Linked DNA regions of Homo sapiens. The protein of the gene in region 1 purifies or fractionates together with the protein of each later gene. This does not show direct contact. Each region holds a gene or a part of one and is shown in the gene's direction. Other genes may lie near its edges. The genes, in order: NPC1, SLC12A9 and PI4K2A.

Region 1 (3,749 bases):
TTTGAACTAAAGGAGATTAGGTCTCAGTAGCAGCCTCAGAAACAAAGTCTACCCATGACTTTCTCCTGCCCTCCTGTCTCCAGCGGTCTTGCACCCCTGAAGTAAGTCACAGGAACCAGAATTCTTCTTCCCCAAGGAGGGTTATGGAAACTTAGAACCTTCAAAGTAATTTATAAACTTGGAAATCTTACTGTAACATTTTCTTCTACCTCTCTCTGTCTTTGAGACAGGGTCTTGCTCTATCACCCAGGCTGGAGTGCAGCAGCATGATCATAGACAACTGTAGCCTCCTGGGCTCAAGCAATCCTCCTGCCTCAGCCTCCTTAGTAGCTGAGACTACAGGTGTGTGCCACTATGCCCAGCTAACTTAAAAAAAATTTTTTTTTTGTATAGAGGGAGTCTTGCTACATTGCCCTGGCTGAGAATTTACATTTCTAACAAGTTCCAAGGAGATGCTCCTGCTGCTGGTCTGGGGATGGCCGTTTGAGGATCCCTGCATGAAGGCATACACAGGACTTGATCCTCAGTGGGGGCACCAGGAGCTGGAGCCTGGGGAGTGGGAAGCGAGAGCACAGAGCTGACTGAGGACCACGAGGTCGTCGTGGAGGACCTAGGCTGAAGGTCCTGAAGAAATCCCCATAGTTTCACTGCCAGGCCAGCCAGGTGGACATCTCAGGGCTGAGGAGGTGAGAAGGCAAGACAGAAAGTGAAACAGCACTTTATAGGATAGGGATGGGAAGGTCATCTGCATCATGGGACTCCTTGGGGAGGGGTTCGGTCATTGCTCCAGATGAAGGTTTAGTCTTTTCATCGTAAATTTGCTTTCACTGTTGGGAAAGAGATCTTCACCTCCATTTTCTTAACTTCAAAATGGAAATGACAGATGCTTTTGAGTGGTCTGAATACTTGAAATTTGAGGGAAAACGTTACCAGAAACACATACAACTAGAGTTAAAGATAAATACATATATCAAACGCATGGCTCAAAAATGACAACGCGTCTTCTTTATCTGCCTTCACGTAGAACTTAAAACAGACCCTGGTCCCCACCTCGGGGTTTCCTCGCGCCCACGGGCTGCGCTGCGCAGCTGGGCCAGCAGGTGGCGAGGCTCCCGCACTTTTTTTCCCGGGCCTGGCCGCACCGCCACCGCCCACCCCGCGCTCCGCCCCGCCCCGCCCCGCCGCACTCGCGGATCGTCACACGGTCAGGCCACCGCGCGTCACCGCCCCGGGCTCTGCTAGAAAGTGCCGGGGTCCAGATTCCTTTCAGGTGACTGGGTTGGGAGGAGAAGTCGCTCAGCGTAATTGTCGGAGCCGAAATAAACAGAGACTCCGCGGCCGGGCGGGACCTTACCCGGAAGTCCCCCAGAACAGCACTACCCTTCGCTGAAACCTCGCCCGCCCCCTCCAACCCAGAGACGAAAAGGGAAAGCATCACGGCCAGAAACCGTTGGCACAACTCCACAGATACTCTCCCGGGCCGAGCCAGACTCCATAAGTCCCGCGCCTGGCCCCCGGGGATTGCAGGGGCTGAGGAGAAGGGCAACACGGGGACCTTGAAGCGGGGTCGCGGCGGCGCCCCAGCCCGGGCCAGGGAGTCCCGGCAGCGGCACCTCCCAGAAAGGGCGGAGCCGACGACGCCTTCTTCCTTCCTGACCGGCGCGCGCAGCCTGCTGCCGCGGTCAGCGCCTGCTCCTGCTCCTCCGCTCCTCCTGCGCGGGGTGCTGAAACAGCCCGGGGAAGTAGAGCCGCCTCCGGGGAGCCCAACCAGCCGAACGCCGCCGGCGTCAGCAGCCTTGCGCGGCCACAGCATGACCGCTCGCGGCCTGGCCCTTGGCCTCCTCCTGCTGCTACTGTGTCCAGCGCAGGTGAGCGGTCGCCGGCCACCGGGACGCCCTGTGGGGACGTGGCGGGGCCGAGAGCCGGGGAAGGCGACGGGCCCAGCGACGGCTCAGGCCCGGGTCCTGGGGAAGTTGGTCTGGCGATGGAGAGCTCGGAGGTTCCTCACTTGTCCTGTTTCTGTCTCCGGCCACGCTCTCTTTCCTGTGGTCTGGAAGAGGGTGGCAGTGGGGGCTTGGGTGACCTGTTCTGAGCTTGTTCCATCTGTGGTCACCTAATTTCTCTGTGTAGGATGTGGCACCAGAAGAAGGGAGGAAAGTGGGTAGAGTGGGATAGGGACACTACTTGCTTTTTAAAAAATTCTGCTACATGCGCACGAACTCCAAAATTTAGGAGCTCTAACCACTTTATTTCCTCTTCTCATCACCTGAGGATGGAGGTGGAAGCAGAGGTAAAGAGACACAAACTTCCTCAAGCACCCGGTGAAACTGCCTTGAGTACTTGACATAAGTCAGCTTGGTCTTCTAAAGAGGGCAGGTTACTTTTCATCAACTCCTTTTTACACCTCAGGACACTGAGACTCACAGGGCGGTATTGAATTTCCCCTTGTCACTATTAGCCAGCGACAGGATGGGGCCTGGAACTCGGTGTCCTGCTGACTCCTTCTGGGGGCTTTTGCTTGGTTTAATAGCTTTGGGAAAGAGCACCTCAGTATTTGTGTGTCTGTAGTTTCCTCTTTTAAAACTGGAGTGGGGCAGTGTCACGCTGTGACTCGTTAAACCAAATCAGGATGAGAGTGCCTCCGGGGAATTGTGTCCTTGTGCACATTAACGCCCCTCACATAGGTGTGGCGTCAATAGGAAGTGGTGAATCAGGGGAGAGGGGGTTCCGTGGACTAGAAAAAACTCTCCTTCGACTTCTATTTAGTTCTCAGAAGGGGATAGGTGATGTTGATCCAATAATGGACTAAGAGCCAGGAGAAGGGCTCCGCGGGAGGATCTCTTGAGCTCAGCAGTTCAAGACCAGCCGGGGCAACATGGTGAAACACCGTCTTAAAAACATTTTGTTTTTCTTTTCATTGTTGAGGTTGAGGCTGCTGTGAGCTGTGATCACGCCGGTGTACTCCAGCCTGGGCAACAGAGCAAGACCCTGTGTCAAAACAAAAAAGAGAGAGAAATAAATAATAGCAATTATGTGCCGTAGAGAAAATGTGGCTATTCTGTTTCCCTAGAGTTTTTTAAAATTTATTTTTAAAATTTATTTATTTTAGAGACAGGTTCTTGCTCTGTTGCCCAGGCGTGGGGGCAGTGTCGCCATCATAGCTCACTGCAGCCTGGAACTCCTGGCCTCAAGCAGTCCTTCCACCTTGGCCTCCCAAAGCACTGGGATTATTGTGAGCACCACTCCTGGCCCCTCCTAGAGTTTTAGATCAGGACCTTAAATAGGCTTCCCTTTTTTTTGGAGACAGAGTCTCTGTTGCCCAGTCTGGAGTGTAGTGGCGCAATCTCGGCTCACTGCAACCTCTGCCTCCTGGATTCAAGCAATTCTGGTGCCTCAGCCTCCCAGGTAGCTAGGATTACAGGTGCCCACCACCACGCCCAGCTAATTTTTGTATTTTCCGTGGAGATGGGGTTTCACCGTGTTGGTCAGGCTGGTCTCGAAATCCTGACCTCTAGCGATCCGCCCTCCTCTTTTGGGGATTACAGGTGTGAGCCACCTCGCCCAGCCAGGCTTCACATTATTAAGTAGCCATCTCTTAAGTATTTTTTAAATCTCAAGTACCCAAGGCTGATGGCCAATGAGTGCTTCTTTTATGACATTTGGGATAGGTCAGAGGTTTGTTGTAAGTCTCTTGCAAAAATGCCTGGAGGCCTTTTCAAGGTCTGTAAACCTTAACTGGAAATAATCCT
Region 2 (3,649 bases), on another chromosome or scaffold:
GTGACAGGTGTCTGGGGAGGGATGGGGGTGGAGTGTCGAACAAGATTGGTGCACCTGGGTCACCAAGGGGAAACACAGGCTGGGGGACTGGGAAGCAGAAACCCAGCTTGTTGGGGTGGAGGGTGGCTACCGGCGATTGACAACCTATAGCCAGCAGCTGCCATGGACCCAGTACTGTTGCAGGCACTTAGCTTGGGAGTGAGGGTGGGTAGTGGCTTTCTACCCAGTTTGCATTTCCACAAATATTTGGCCTCTTGTGCATATACCATTAGGTATGACAGCCGGGTGCGGTGGCTCACACCTGTAATCCCAGCACTTTGGGAGGCTGAGGCAGGAGGATCGCTGGAGCCCAGGAGTTCCAGACCAGCCTGGGCAACAGAGCAAGAGCCTCCCCCCAAATACAAAAATTAGCCAGGTGTGATGGCAAATGCTTGTAGTCTTGGCTACTTGGGAGGCTGAGGTGGGAGGATTGCTTGAGTCCAAGAGGTCGAGGCTGCAGTGAGCTATGATTACAGCACTGCACTTTAGCCTGGGGGTTGGAGTGAGACCTTGTCTCTTAAAAAAAAGGAAGGAATGACCACTGAGTGATTAAATCCAAGGCTGCCCAATGAATACCAGGCATATCCCTTTAGCACATTTGATATCTGAGTCTGATCCTTAAGATCGGGGCTGGAGATTTTCTTACCCCGTGACGCATGATCATCCGTGTCCTCCTTTTCCTCCTTCCTAGGACCCTGCTGCAGGAAGACTATGGGTTCTTCCGCGCCATCAGCCTGTGGCCCCCACTGGTGTTGATCGGAATCTATGCCACAGCGCTCTCAGCGTCCATGAGCTCGCTCATTGGTGCCTCCCGCATCCTCCATGCCCTGGCCCGGGATGACCTCTTTGGTGGGTTCTCTGCCTCCTTGCTGGCTTGGAGCACGCCCTCCCTTGTCTGTCTCTCCGTCCCCGCTGAGCCCTGGCTGATGTGTCTGCTGTGGATTCTGTTTTTCTAGGCGTGATCTTGGCACCGGCCAAGGTTGTGTCCCGAGGGGGAAACCCCTGGGCAGCTGTACTTTATTCTTGGGGCCTGGTGCAGGTGAGCCTTCTTCTTCAAGGGGCCCTTTCCCTCACCCCACCAGCTGGCAGGATGGGGGTGCAGTTAGATGCAGGCTGGGAGACAAATGTAAAGACAAATGCGTATGCACTTGGGGTTGCACTGGCACTCTGCAGGGTTCACTGGCACTTTGTGGGGTTCACCAGCACCTTGCAGGTTGCCCCAGTGCTTTGCAGAGTTCATTGGCACCCTGGGAGGTTCACTGGCACTTTTTGGGGTACACGGGCATTGTGCAGGGTTCACTGACACTTTTTGGGGTATACTAGTATTTTTCAGTATTCACTGGCACTTTGTGGGGTGCCCCAGCACTTTGAGGGATTCACTGGCACTCTGTGGGATGTACCAACACTTTGTGGGGGTTCACTGATACTTTGGAGGTTTGGTGGCACTCTGTGGGAGTGCATTGGCCCTTTCTGGGGATCACTGACATTGGGGGTGCACTTGCACTTTACAGGGCTCACGGGCACTTTTCAGGGTTCATTGACACTTTGGGGTGCACTGGCACTCTCTGGGGTTCATTGACACTTTGGGGGTGCGCTGGCACTTTGCATGGTTCACTGGTACTTTCCAGGGTTCACTGACACTTTGGGGGTACACTGGCACTTTCTGGGGTTCACTGACACTGGGGATACACTGGCACTTTTGGGGTTTAATAGCATTTTAGGGGCTCATTGACACTTTGGGGGTGCACTGGCACTTTTGGGGTTTAATAGCATTTTGGGGGTTCATTGACACTTTGGGGGTGCACTGGCACTTTGCAGGGTTCACTGGCACTTTCTGGGGCTCATTGACACTTTGGGGTACACTGGCATTCTTTGGTGTTCACTGGCATTTTGGGGGTGCACTGGCACTTTGGAACAACGGCACGCCTCTTGGCCCTTGCCCAGCTGGTGCTCCTGGCTGGGAAGCTGAACACACTGGCTGCTGTGGTCACTGTCTTCTACCTGGTGGCCTATGCTGCCGTGGACCTGTCCTGCCTGAGCCTGGAGTGGGCCTCGGCCCCCAACTTCCGGTGAGAGACTCAGATCTGTGTCCCCAGAGAGAAGAAGGGAGGACTCGGGCTCAGGCGTGGGGCTGGGGACTGCAGCCTCGTGTGCGGCCTGCCCTGAGTTTCTGTCCCTCCTCCCCTCCATGCCCGCAGCCCCACCTTCAGCCTGTTCTCCTGGCACACCTGCCTGCTGGGGGTGGCCTCCTGCCTGCTCATGATGTTCCTCATCAGTCCTGGCGCGGCTGGTGGCTCCCTGCTCCTCATGGGTCTGCTGGCTGCCCTGCTCACCGCGCGAGGAGGCCCCAGTAGCTGGGGCTATGTCAGCCAGGCCTTGCTTTTCCACCAGGTATGGGGAGCTGGTGGGGCGGTGGGGAAATGGGAGGTGGTCAAAGAACCCCCTCTCTCTTTGGCTGGAGTTGGTGCTCCCGTCCAGGAGGCGCTGAACGGGGCTGTGCATTTGATCCTGCCACTTCCCCACTGCCTCACCCCTATACCCAGGTGCGTAAGTATCTGCTTCGGCTGGACGTCCGGAAGGATCACGTGAAGTTCTGGCGGCCCCAGCTGCTGCTCCTGGTGGGGAACCCCCGGGGCGCCCTGCCTCTGCTGCGGTTGGCCAACCAGCTTAAGAAGGGGGGGCTGTATGTGCTGGGCCACGTCACCCTGGGAGACCTCGGTGAGCTGCCCTCCCACTCACTCACTCACTCCCATCCTTCTCTCCCCCTACCTTTTTTTTTTTTTTGAGATGGAGCTTCGTTCTGTTGCCCAGGCTGGAGTGCAGTGGGACGATCTTGGCTCACTGCAACCTCCACCTCCCAGGTTCAAGTAATTCTCCTGCCTTAGCCTCCTGAGCTGGGATTACAGGCACACACCATCATGCCTGGCTAGTTTTTGTATTTTTAGTAGAGAAGGGGTTTCACCATGTTGGCCAAGCTAGTCTCGAACTCCTGACCTCAAGTGCTCCGCCCATCTCGGCCTCCCAAAGTGCTGGAATTGTAGGTGTGAGCCACCACGGCCAGAACCCCTCCCCCGCTTTTTTTTGAGACAAGGTCTTGCTCTGTCACCCAGGCTGGAGAGCAGTGGTGCCATCATAGTTCACTGCAGCCTCAACCTCTTGGGCTCAAGTAATCCTCCTGCCTTGGCCTCCTGAGTAGCTGGGACTACAGGTGTGTGCCACCAGGCCTGGCTCATTTGTAGAGATGAGGTCTCTTTATGTTTCCCAGGCTGTCTGGAACTCCTGGCTCAAGCAGCCCTCCCACCTTGGCTTCCCAAAGGGCAGGGATTACAGGCATGAGCCCCGACACCAGCCCCTCTGCCCCTTTTATCCTTTCCCATGACCCCTCCAAGTAGCCATAGCCCTGCCCAGGCCCGTCTGTGATTTGGACTCTAGGAGACATTGAGTTTGGACAACACTGGCTACCTTCCTTTCCTTATCTTCTCTGTAGACTCCCTGCCCTCGGACCCTGTACAGCCGCAGTATGGGGCATGGCTCAGCCTGGTGGACCGTGCCCAGGTGAAGGCTTTTGTGGATCTAACCCTCTCACCCTCCGTGCGCCAGGGGGCTCAGC
Region 3 (2,781 bases), on another chromosome or scaffold:
CCTTTCTTTTGGGTTTTTGCCAAGCCTCCTCCATCTCCCATCAGTGCTGTGGGCTGGCTGCAAGCCTCGAAACAGTTCTCCTGGAAGGGAGGTTTTTGCTTTACCCCCGCCAGCACTTCCGCACACAATCATAGAGAACCTCTCTGCTCTCTGCTGGCCTACAGCTTGTCTGTTTCTCAAGCAGAGGCAGGAAGAGCTAGTCTTAGCATTTATATTTTAATAGGAAGTTGACTCCCAGCATGTAAAAGTGATCCACGCAGCCGGAGTGTATGCCGGGAGCTAAGTGGTCTATGGGTGAACATATCCCACCTTGCTTCCTGAGTCCTTGGTCCCAATCTTCTCATTTGTTCCTCTCGTTTTAAATTTTTTCCCCCCAACTCTTTTGATGTAAGAGTTCAGTTTGTCTTCGGGAGTGGGTCTCTGCAAGGGCTCTGGGATGAGTCTTGGCTTCCAAGAGGACAGGCTATTAGGTTCTTGGACTTTTTTCTGTGCTACCGCTGCTGCTTGGTGGAAGTAACAGGACGTGGATTCTGCCTCATAAGTGGCAGTTTCCCTTTTCTCTCTGACTTGTCCTAGGCCGATTTCTCTATGGCTTCCCTGAGAAAGGTGAGGCCCAAAGGAGAGAGGCCTTCAAACTGTCCCAGGTCCTGCGCAGCTCAGTGCGTATCTTCTTGCTTCCATGTGTCTTTTCCCCTGCTGCCTCACTCCCCACCCCCACTTGCCAGGTGTTTGAGCCATTTCTACACCAAAGCAAAGTACGGCCTCAGGAGGGAGTAAAAAGGGTGCCATCTGTGTCTGGAGGGGCAGCTGTGTTCATGCCCTGTGCTACTGGACATTTCACAATTCTGGCACCTTGCGATTGGTCAGTCAACCTCAGAAAGTAACTATCTTGAAGGTTTGAAAAACAACCAAAGAAAGGGAGTGAGGACTATGGCTGCATGTCCTCTGCTTGCCCGGCTGCAGAGCAGAGATGTGCAGCCCTCTGGTCAGCTGGTCCAGGCTGGTCCCCGCCGGTCCCCTTCCAGTCCAGCCACCAAGAGTCCACTTGTCCCGGGCTTCCACCTGGCTGACAGGAAGAATTTCTGAGAGCTGGATGTGCATGCCCTGTGGACGAAGGTACAGCTCGCCTGCCTGCCCCAATCCCAGCCCCGACAATCACATGCAGCTGACTCGGACACTGGCCTTGGGAACAATGTTCGAGAGAACACTTGCCCCTTGACTGTAGGAGCCAGAAGGGGACCCAGGTGTGCATAGCTCTCTGTAGACATTTTTACCCAAACCTGTTGGTAAAGTGCCCATCTGGTGCTCAAGAGAGCCTGGGGGTCTAACAGGGAGCCCGGCTGCCTCACCTGGCCACAGCCTCCACACCAGATCTCCACATTGTCTTGATCCAGACCAGCTCTGTGATCAGAAGGAAATTGGGTCCAGTGTAGGAGAGAGCTGGTCCTGGGCCTGGCAGGCAAGAGTGTGGGCATCCTTTCCTGGCCTTTCTCCACTCTCCCTCAAGCCTGTGCTCAGGTTGCCTTGAATGTGGACTCTGGAAGAGCCAGGGGCCCAGAATGCCGGGGGAGGCTTCTGAGTGGCACTCATGGAACACCGTCCCTCTGCCAGCCATAGGCCCTGCCTCCAGTGTCAGGGAATGGAGGCTGGGCTGCGAGAGTGTTGCTGCCCCCTGTGTCATTCTTCTAATCCAATGTAGAAATTGTACGTAATGTATTTAAATCAACGCAAATGTATGAATAACAAATACAGTTCTGACCTTTTTTGTCCAGTTTCTTTGGGGGAAGGAAGACAAAGAAGGTAGGAACGGAATTTTGAGGGCAAAGAAACCTGTGTTTCCATGGAATTGCTGAGACGTGGCTCCTGGGGCTATTTCTCCCTAATAAAGGATGATCCAGGTCCTCATTTCCAAAGTCCCAATGCTCTGAAAACCAAAAGTATTTTCATAACCCATTTGAAACCAAACCTGACCTGAACTTACACTGATAGGAAGCTATGGGTAATTATGATGTGTTCCTTTTAGTGTGATTCTTTGTTGCAGAAATGTCAATATATTTTATGACATGGTTCCCTACTAGGGATTATACAGTATTTGCTGACTACTTCCTAAGAGCCAAAAATAAAAAATCTGAATTCCAAAATAATCTAGTGCCAAGGGCTTGGGATAAGAAATGTGGACCTACAGGCTGGGTGCAGTGACTCACACCAGTAATCCCAGCACTTTGGGAGGCTGAGGTGGGTGAATTGCTTGAGGTCAGGAGTTTGAGACCAGCCTGGCCAACATGGCGAAACCTCGTCTCTACTAAAAATACAAAAATTAGCTGGGTGTGGTGGCACACGCCTGTAATCCCAGCTACTTGGGAGGCTGAGGCAGGAGAATCACTTGAACCCGGGAGTTGGAGGTTGCACTGAGCCGAGATTGCACCACTGCATTCCAGCCTGGAGTAAGACTTTGTCTCTCAGTAAATAAAAATAAATAAATAAATAAATAAACAATAAAATAAAAAAGAGGACCTACCTGACTCAAGGTAGTAGTGGTTCCTCCTCTTGGCCACCAGAGGGCAGCCCTGCCCTGTGTACATCACTGCCCCACTTCAAACCCTGAATAATCAAGCATATAGGGTGGGTGGAGAGGGAGAAGAAAGCTAATAAGCACAGAGTATGCCTCTCTTGAGGTGGAGCCAGAACTGTGGGAAAAACCCTGCCTTCAAGGGTTTCCAGGCCATGGGAAGCCTAGGATATAACGCAGGCAACTTCAGAATCATCAGTCCACCTTGGGAT

Evidence for each region.
Region 2: the proteins of NPC1 (region 1) and SLC12A9 purify together in Homo sapiens (affinity purification with mass spectrometry, with the first as the bait; one large-scale study listed by BioGRID). This does not show direct contact.
Region 3: the proteins of NPC1 (region 1) and PI4K2A purify together in Homo sapiens (affinity purification with mass spectrometry; 2 studies listed by BioGRID and IntAct, with this or other methods). This does not show direct contact.

The regions. Positions count from the first base shown.
Region 1 is NC_000018.10:23,584,406-23,588,154, reverse strand, and holds the start of NPC1 (NPC intracellular cholesterol transporter 1 precursor), read left to right. Parts: upstream 1-1,648; 5' UTR 1,649-1,811; coding exon 1,812-1,868; intron 1,869-3,749. UniProt on the Homo sapiens protein: Intracellular cholesterol transporter which acts in concert with NPC2 and plays an important role in the egress of cholesterol from the endosomal/lysosomal compartment.
Region 2 is NC_000007.14:100,859,155-100,862,803, forward strand, and holds part of SLC12A9 (solute carrier family 12 member 9), read left to right. Parts: coding exon 1-7; intron 8-730; coding exon 731-888; intron 889-995; coding exon 996-1,078; intron 1,079-1,983; coding exon 1,984-2,108; intron 2,109-2,237; coding exon 2,238-2,430; intron 2,431-2,582; coding exon 2,583-2,757; intron 2,758-3,526; coding exon 3,527-3,649. UniProt on the Homo sapiens protein: May be an inhibitor of SLC12A1. Seems to correspond to a subunit of a multimeric transport system and thus, additional subunits may be required for its function. May play a role in lysosomal ion flux and osmoregulation.
Region 3 is NC_000010.11:97,674,294-97,677,074, forward strand, and holds the end of PI4K2A (phosphatidylinositol 4-kinase type 2-alpha), read left to right. Parts: 3' UTR 1-2,141; downstream 2,142-2,781. UniProt on the Homo sapiens protein: Membrane-bound phosphatidylinositol-4 kinase (PI4-kinase) that catalyzes the phosphorylation of phosphatidylinositol (PI) to phosphatidylinositol 4-phosphate (PI4P), a lipid that plays important roles in endocytosis, Golgi function, protein sorting and membrane trafficking and is required for prolonged survival of neurons.